Homo sapiens: one gene and its partner. The protein of the gene in region 2 purifies or fractionates together with the protein of the main gene of each other region. This does not show direct contact. Each region holds a gene or a part of one and is shown on either strand. Other genes may lie near its edges. The genes, in order: JMY and ZNF398.

Evidence for each region.
Region 1: the proteins of ZNF398 (region 2) and JMY purify together in Homo sapiens (affinity purification with mass spectrometry; one large-scale study listed by BioGRID and IntAct). This does not show direct contact.

What each region holds. Positions count from the first base shown.
Region 1 is NC_000005.10:79,312,560-79,316,380, reverse strand, and holds part of JMY (junction-mediating and -regulatory protein), read right to left. Parts: intron 2,125-3,821; coding exon 1,530-2,124; intron 382-1,529; coding exon 74-381; 3' UTR 71-73; intron 1-70. UniProt on the Homo sapiens protein: Acts both as a nuclear p53/TP53-cofactor and a cytoplasmic regulator of actin dynamics depending on conditions. In nucleus, acts as a cofactor that increases p53/TP53 response via its interaction with p300/EP300.
Region 2 is NC_000007.14:149,150,328-149,154,148, reverse strand, and holds part of ZNF398 (zinc finger protein 398), read right to left. Parts: intron 3,175-3,821; exon of another isoform or gene 2,906-3,174; coding exon of another isoform or gene 2,867-2,905; intron 205-2,866; coding exon 1-204. UniProt on the Homo sapiens protein: Functions as a transcriptional activator.

The DNA of each region.
Region 1 (3,821 bases), on a different chromosome or scaffold from region 2:
ACCCCAAACCTCATCATCCGATATAAAACCTGTATTACTGAATGCTACTAAAGACAATAAGGCCGTTTACTTGTTAGTTCTCCCAGTCTGTGCAAGGTAAAGCCTCCTCTTCGTCCTCTGACTCTGGGGATGCTTCTTTAATTCTTCTAAGAGCTTCATGGATGCTCCGTGTTAGAGGGTCTGTATCGGGTAGAAGTGTGAAGGATTCTCTCAAAACATCCTTCTGTACCTTCTTCAATTTTACCCCTTTCCTTATTTGTGCCAAGATATTATTACTATCATCTTCATCAGGAAAAGGAGGCAGAGTTCGCTGTTCAACCTTTTTCAGATGAAAACTACCACGCTTCAAGGAGGCTAGCACCTCATCCATGGGTGAGCTCACTTTGGAAAATGAAACAGAACAGTATTACAGTTAGGACTGCACTTAATTAGAATGAAACTGTATAACCTCTACCGTTCGCAACTGTGAAAGCACAGGACGCTGAAACACCATCTTCAAAATGGATCATGAAATGTGTGCAGAAGGTGATCAGAACACAAGGGATCCTAATTATCCTTCTTTTTAGAAAATCCCAAGACCCAATCCATGGTGGGTACTGTTGGTATTCCTATCATTTCCTACATGAGAGAAGTGACCAGATTGGGAACTGGGAGGTGGTCTTAGTAGTATTATGGGTGTGATTCCCAAAGGATTTCCATATTGCAGTTGCTCCACCCAAATTCAGAGTGATGGGGTTACACATTTTGTTTTTAAAAATTAATTTTTGTTTATTATGGAGACTGTGCTTTTTTCATTTAGTTGTTTTACATGTGAAATCCTACTCAGATTACATCAAGAAATGTTTTATAGAATGGTCCTTCAGGTTAAAATGTAATATACAAGTAATATGTAACATTTATATAATGTTCTCCCCATGCAAAATGCAAATTCCTTAAAGGCAAAAGGCAAGGGTTATTCTCTGCTCTTTTTAGAAATAATTTTATTTGTGCTTGAATCTCTCTTAACAAAAAAAATTAGAAAAAAAAATAGTAACCTTATTGAGGCACATCTGTCACATTGTAAGTTGAACAGATTACTCCCTGTTCTTCTTTGCTTCTTTATACAAATACACAAAAGTCCTCAACAAATGTATGAACAAATGTTACATGATCCTGCCAATGTCTTCCCTGTGGTGACAGTCCTTACCAGATATCTTACCCTTTCTGATATGAGTATTTTTTTAAAAATCTCAGGTTTAAAATCAAAACTTTTTCCCTAACACAAAAGGAGCCACCCATTATACATTACCAAACATGAATGTATCACTTTAGAAGATCTGTTTTTAAAACATGCCTAACAGCCCAAGAAGGCATACATTTCTGTGTACTTTATGCACTAAGAATTCTCCTCTAGTGTGACTTTGAAAACCTGTTTACTATCAAATAATGTCAAAAATAAAGTGTTTTAAGCTTTGCAACGTCAAAAAATATAGTTTTTTACTATGCCTGATGTCATACAACAGATGGACCATGAAAATATGTTGACGTACCTCTCCTCCTCTGCAAACCTTCAGCAGTCTTTCTGAGCTTCTTCCGTGCACTGACCAGCTGGCTGCTGTCAAAGAGGTGTGCTGAGGGGGCACTGGCTGACTTTGGGATCCTCTTCTCATTCCCCTCCTTTCTAGGCAGATCTTTCTCCAGTGTCTCTGGGCCACTGTCCTTAGCAACAGGCAGAGGTGGTGGTGGTGGGGGAGGGGGAGGAGGTGGGGGAGGTGGTGGTGTTGGAGGAAGAGGGGATGGGAGTGGATTTATGGTAACAGAACATGGTTCGAGGTTGTTATTCAAAAGTGGAAGAGATATAGTGGGAGGCAGTTCAGAGGTAACACCACTGAGAGGTAATGAGGTGGCTTCAAGTTGTGTTAATGAAGTATCTTCAAGTTGCACAAGGCTCTGGGGTTCTGTTGTCTGTGATGGCCCACGCTTGACTCTTCCTTCTCCCACCTCTTCAGTTTTCTCTTCTACCTGTAACACACTTGGTAAAGAGTCACAATGATCCTCTTGGAGAACAGGACTTGCTGCACCTTTTCTTCTTGCATGAGCTAGTCGTAATCTGGTTGATTTAAGTATGACTTGCCCAGGATACCTCTAAAATACCAGAAGTTATTGGAACTGGTTAAATGTTATTGAAACAATTTATGAGCACATGCCTATTTATTTTCTCCTTCAAATAAAAGATGTTATGTGGCCGGGTGTGGTGGCTCACGCCTGTAATCCCAGCACTTTGGGAGGCCGAGGCGGGTGGATCACCTGAGATCAGGAGTTTGAGACCAGCCTGGCCGACATGGTGAAACCCCGTCACTACTAAAAATACAAAAATTAGCTGGGTGTGGTGGCAGGCACCTGTAGTCCCAGCTACTCAGGAGGCTGAGGCAGGAGAATTGCTTGAACCCGGGAGGCGGAAGTTGCAGTGAGCCGAGATTGTGCCACCGCACTCCAGCCTGAGTGACAGAGTGAGATTCCATCTCAAAAATGTTATGTTGGCTTATTGGTTATTTCACCCTTAAAGTTATACAGAAAATCCGAAAGTACCTAATAATAGCTTACAAACAATTATGAATTTATTATTTGCCTATCAAATCCACGATTGATAATTCAAATATTCAAAATTATGATTAAAAAAAGATTTTTAGTGAATAAAACTACTAAATGTATAAAACAAATAGCATGTAAAATGCAAAACATAAGTGATGTCAAATGTATAAATGCTACTGGTATGCAAAAAGTTTCCTATGTTTTCAAATGCACACACGAGAAAATTAAAATATTCTTTAACAGGTTACTTGGCATTTTTAAAAAGCTCCATCAACTATATATCCATTTTATGACAGAATGAAGAGAGAAATACATTTTTTTCAGTACTTACTGGTAGAACTCTTATATATATTTTACCATGGTAAGACCTTTTGTTTGTTTGTTTGTTTTTGAGACAGGGTCTCACTCTGTTGCCCAGACTGGAGTGCAGTGGTATGATCACAGCTCACTGCAGCCATGACCTCCCTGGCTCAGGTAATCCTCCCACTTCAGCCACCCAAATGGCCGGAACCACAGGCATGTTCCACCATGCCAGGCTAATTTGTATAGAGACAGGGTTTCGCCATGTTACCCAGGCTGGTCTTGAACTCCCCGGCTCAAGCAATCCACCTGCCTCAGCCTCATAAAGTGCTGGGATTACAGGCGTGAGCCACATTTACTTAATAACAAGGCTTTTCCCCTGCCTCACCTCCTTTTTTTCCACTGTAACACTTGTTCAAAAGCCTACTTCACCTACAAAGTGATCCTTCAGCATGCATAACTGAAGTAAGGCTCCAGAGTACTTTAAAAATGAGAACTGTGAGGCTTCAGCACAGTTCTGAGGAGATGTGTGGATACTGTGGTATCAGTGTGTGGTCATGGCTTACCCTGGCAAGAGAACTGCTGAAGCATTTCTCAAATATGCTGCTCCCCTCCACCTCTAATTCTGCCAATGGTCATTTGATGTATTACCACCACAGGCTGATGTATGTGGAATAAATAACATGCTGATGCTTGAGCTGGATAGTCAGTTGTGATTTAACTAATTTTTTAAACTCAAGAGGAATCTAGGTTTCCCAGAGGCCCTTATCATTCCTCTTATACTACTGAAGCTGTGGGTCAAAGGTCACAAGAATACTAAATTCGGAAAACCACCAGAGGAAATGGAGCCATGCCATTAAAACAATTTTAAAAAGGACTTCCATGGTTATAATAGTTTATAAATAAGGGAAAACCAAGTTTTTCCCACAAAGAAATCCTACAGGTGTATA
Region 2 (3,821 bases):
CTTCTCTGCTGTCCCTGTCCGACCTTCCAGGTGTAGGAGTCGCCGGCTGTGGATCTCCACCTTCCTCTCTATAGCCTGCACGGCGGCCACCACTGTCCACAGAGAGATAGCTGCTGTCTGCAGGTGTGCCTCATTTGCTGCTGGGGGTGTAGGAAGAGGAAGGGGCTGCAGGGATGTAAGGCACTCGGAGTCCCATTCAGATGTCTGCATGCAGTGGAAAGATGGAACAAGACATTGAGTGTTAGAAGGAACCCTAACTCCAAACTAAAATCAGATAAGGACTGCTTAACTGTCCAGCAGAGATTAATTTGAATATAGTTCTAGTACTGCCTGCGTATGCCTCATCTTTCTGGAGCTCACTGGCATCAACAGCCAAGAGACCTGATTTGGTGGTTCTGGGATAGATTGGGTAAGACAGTGAATTAATGAAATTGGCTCTTGAACTAGTCTGGTATATTTCCTCCGCTATAAGGCCCAGCTTAGGTTGCTGCAGCATCCTCTATCTCTGGAAAAGGCAAATGTGCACAAGGATCCTTTCCAGGCCTCACTGAACCTAGTGCCCTCTGATAAATCCATTATAGACTTATGCTCTAGACCTGTCAATCACCCTGTTTACAAACTACAACCACACCATTCAGTAATGGCTGAATAAGCTAAGAATCTTGAATCTGAAGAAAACATGAGAGCTGTTTTCAGATAATGAGGGTTACAAAACAGAAGGCAGAACAGCCTTGTTTCATCTTACACTATGTTACTCCAGAGGGCAGAACTAGAACCAACATAACGAAATTTTCAGACAGGCAAACTTTGGCCTACAATAAATACATTTTTTTCTTTTTAGAGACGGGGTCTTGGTGTCTCATTATGTTGCCTAGGCTGGCTCACTCAAGCAATCCTCCTGCCTCAACCTCCTAAGTAGCTGGGGCTACAGGTGTGTGCCATTGTGACCCACTAATAAATAATTGTTGAACTATTCAAAAAAAGAAATTCTTGCCGGTGCGGTGGCTCATGCCTGTAATCCCAGCACTTTGGGAGGCCGAGGTGGGCAGATCACCTGAGCTTGGGAGTGCGAGTCCAGCCTGGCCAACATGGTGAAATCCCGTCTCTACTAAAAGTACAAAAATTAGCCGGGTGATGGTGCACATCTGTAACACCAGCTACTCGGGAGGCTGAGACAGGAGAATCAGCTTGAACCTGAGAAGTGGAGGTTACAGTGAGCCAAGATTATGCCACTGCACTGCAGCATGGGCAACAGAGGGAGACTGTGTCTCAAAAAAAAAAAAAAAAAGAGGCTGGGCACGGTGGGTGGCTCACACCTGTAATCCCAGTACTTTGAGAGGCCGATCACCTGAGGTCGGGAGTTCGAGACCTGCCTGACCAACGTGGAGAAATCCCATCTCTACTAAAGATACAAAATTAGCCGGCCATCGTGGCAGATGCCTGTAATCTCAGCTACTCAGAGGCTGAGGCAGGACAATCGCTTGAACCCAGGAGACCGAGGTTTCAGTGAGCCGAGATCGCATCATTGCATTCCAGCCTGGGCAATAAGAGCAAAACTCCGTCTCAGAAAAAAAAAAAAAAAGAAATCTAGGCCAGGCGCGGTGGCTCACGCCTGCAATCCTAACACTTTGGGAGGCCGAGGGGGTGGATCACGAGGTCAGGAGATCGAGACCATCCTGGCTAACACGGTGAAACCCTGTCTCTACTAAAAATAGAAAAAATTAGCCAGGCGTGGTGGCGGGCGCCTGTAGTCTCAGCTACTTCGGAGGCTGAGGCAGCAGAATGGCGTGAACCCAGGAGGCGGAGCTTACAGCAACCCAACTTCGCGCCACTGCACTCCAGCCTGGGTGACAGAGTGAAACTCCGTCTCAAAAAAAAAAAAAAAGAAATCTTTAAGGGAAATCACATTATTAATTAATTAATTATTTATTTCTTGAGACAGAGTCTCGCTCTGTCGCCCAGGCTGGAGTACAGTGGTGCCATCTCAGCTTACTGCAACCTCCGCTGCCTGGGTTCAAGCGATTCTCCTGCCTCAGTCTCCCGAGTAGCTGGGACTACAGGAGCGTGCCACCATGCTCAGCTAATTTTTTGTATTTTTAGTAGAGATGGGGTTTCACCATGTTAGCCTGACCTCGTGATCCGCCCTCCTCGGCCTCCCAAAGTGTTGGCATTACGGGCGTGAGCCACCGTGCCCGGCCACATTATTTTATATATGATTTTAAAGTCTAAGATGGATAGTTTAAATGTTATCCACTTATTGCTTGAACCCAGGAGGCAGAGGTTACAGTGAGCCAAGATTCTGCTACTGTACTCCAGCCTACGCGACAGAACGAGATTCAGTCTCAAAAAAAAAAAAAGAAAAAAAAAGAAAGAAATTTTTGTTGAATGAATGAATAAATAAATAGGCTTGCATGCAAACCAGCCACCTCAGGATGTCTTCTATAGCTTAATTTTTTTTTTATTTTTTTATTTTTAGAGACAGGGTCACCGAGGCTGGAGTGCACTGACATGACCATAGCTCCTTGTAACCTATAACTCCTGGGTTATTGATCTTTCCAAGAAAATAAAAGGCTGCTCCAAAATAATTTACTTTGAAACAAAGAGTAGTATAAAAGGAAAAAATTCCCACAACAAATAAGTTGGACTAGGATGATGTATACAAAGCCTTCTAACTCTATGAACCTGATAAGCCACTCTCTGACGACAACCTCCCATCTTTCCAACTCACCCACTACTTTATTCTCATTTCACCTAGTCCTTTGACCATTCCATTTGCTCCTGGTATCTGCCCGTTCCTGGCTTTTTTTCTCTAATTGATCACATCAGTCACTTCCAACTCCCCTTCTCTCATGTCTTTCTGCCTCACCTGCTCAGCTAACCTCCGGCCTTGAATCAGTCCAATCATTCTTTCTCCATTCCTGTAAGCAGATTAGTAAGCGTGCCTAGAGGAAATCACCAGGTAAACTGCTGTCACCACATACCAATGGTTTCTAAGCTTAGTGGGGATCTCAACACTGACTTGTGCCCTCCATGCCGCTTGTCCCATTCCATAAAGTGGCTACTACAAAGCCTCAGCACAGTCCTTCAGCTTTTAGTACAGTTTGTCCTCAAACTAACATGAATAAGAATCAGCTGGAGGGGCCAGGCACAGTGGCTCATGCCTGTAATCCCAGCACTTTGCAAGGCTGAGACAGGTGGATCACCTGAGGTCAGGAGTTTGAGACCAGCCTGACCAGCATGGTGAAACCCTATCTCTACTAAAAAATACAAAAATTAGCTGGGTGTGGTGGCAAGCCATGTAATCCCAGCTACTCGGGAGACTGAGGCTAGAGAATCACTTGAACCCAGGAGGCGGAAGTTGCAGTGAGCTGAAATCGTGCCACTGCACTCCAGCATGGTGACAGAGCAAGACTCTGTCTAGGGCAGGAGGGGAGGCGGGGGGGCGCGGGAGGCGGGGAAGAATCACCTGGAGATCTTGTCAAAGTACAGATTTTTATTCAGTAGGTCTGTAAGGAAAACTGAGATTCTGTTGGGTTTTGTTTTTGTTTTTTTGGGATGAGGTCTCACTGTCACCCAGGCTGGAGTGCAGTGGTGTAATCTCAGCTTACCGCAACCTCCATCTCATGGGCTCAAGCGATTCTCCCATCTCAGCCTCCCGAGTAGCCGGGACCACAGGCACACACCACCATGCCCTGCTAATTTTTGTATTTTTGGTAGAGACAGGGTTTCACCATATTGCCTAGGCTGGTCTCAAACTACTCAGCTCAAGTGATCCACCTGCCTCAGCCTCCCAAAGTGCTGGGATTACAGGTGTGAGCCAT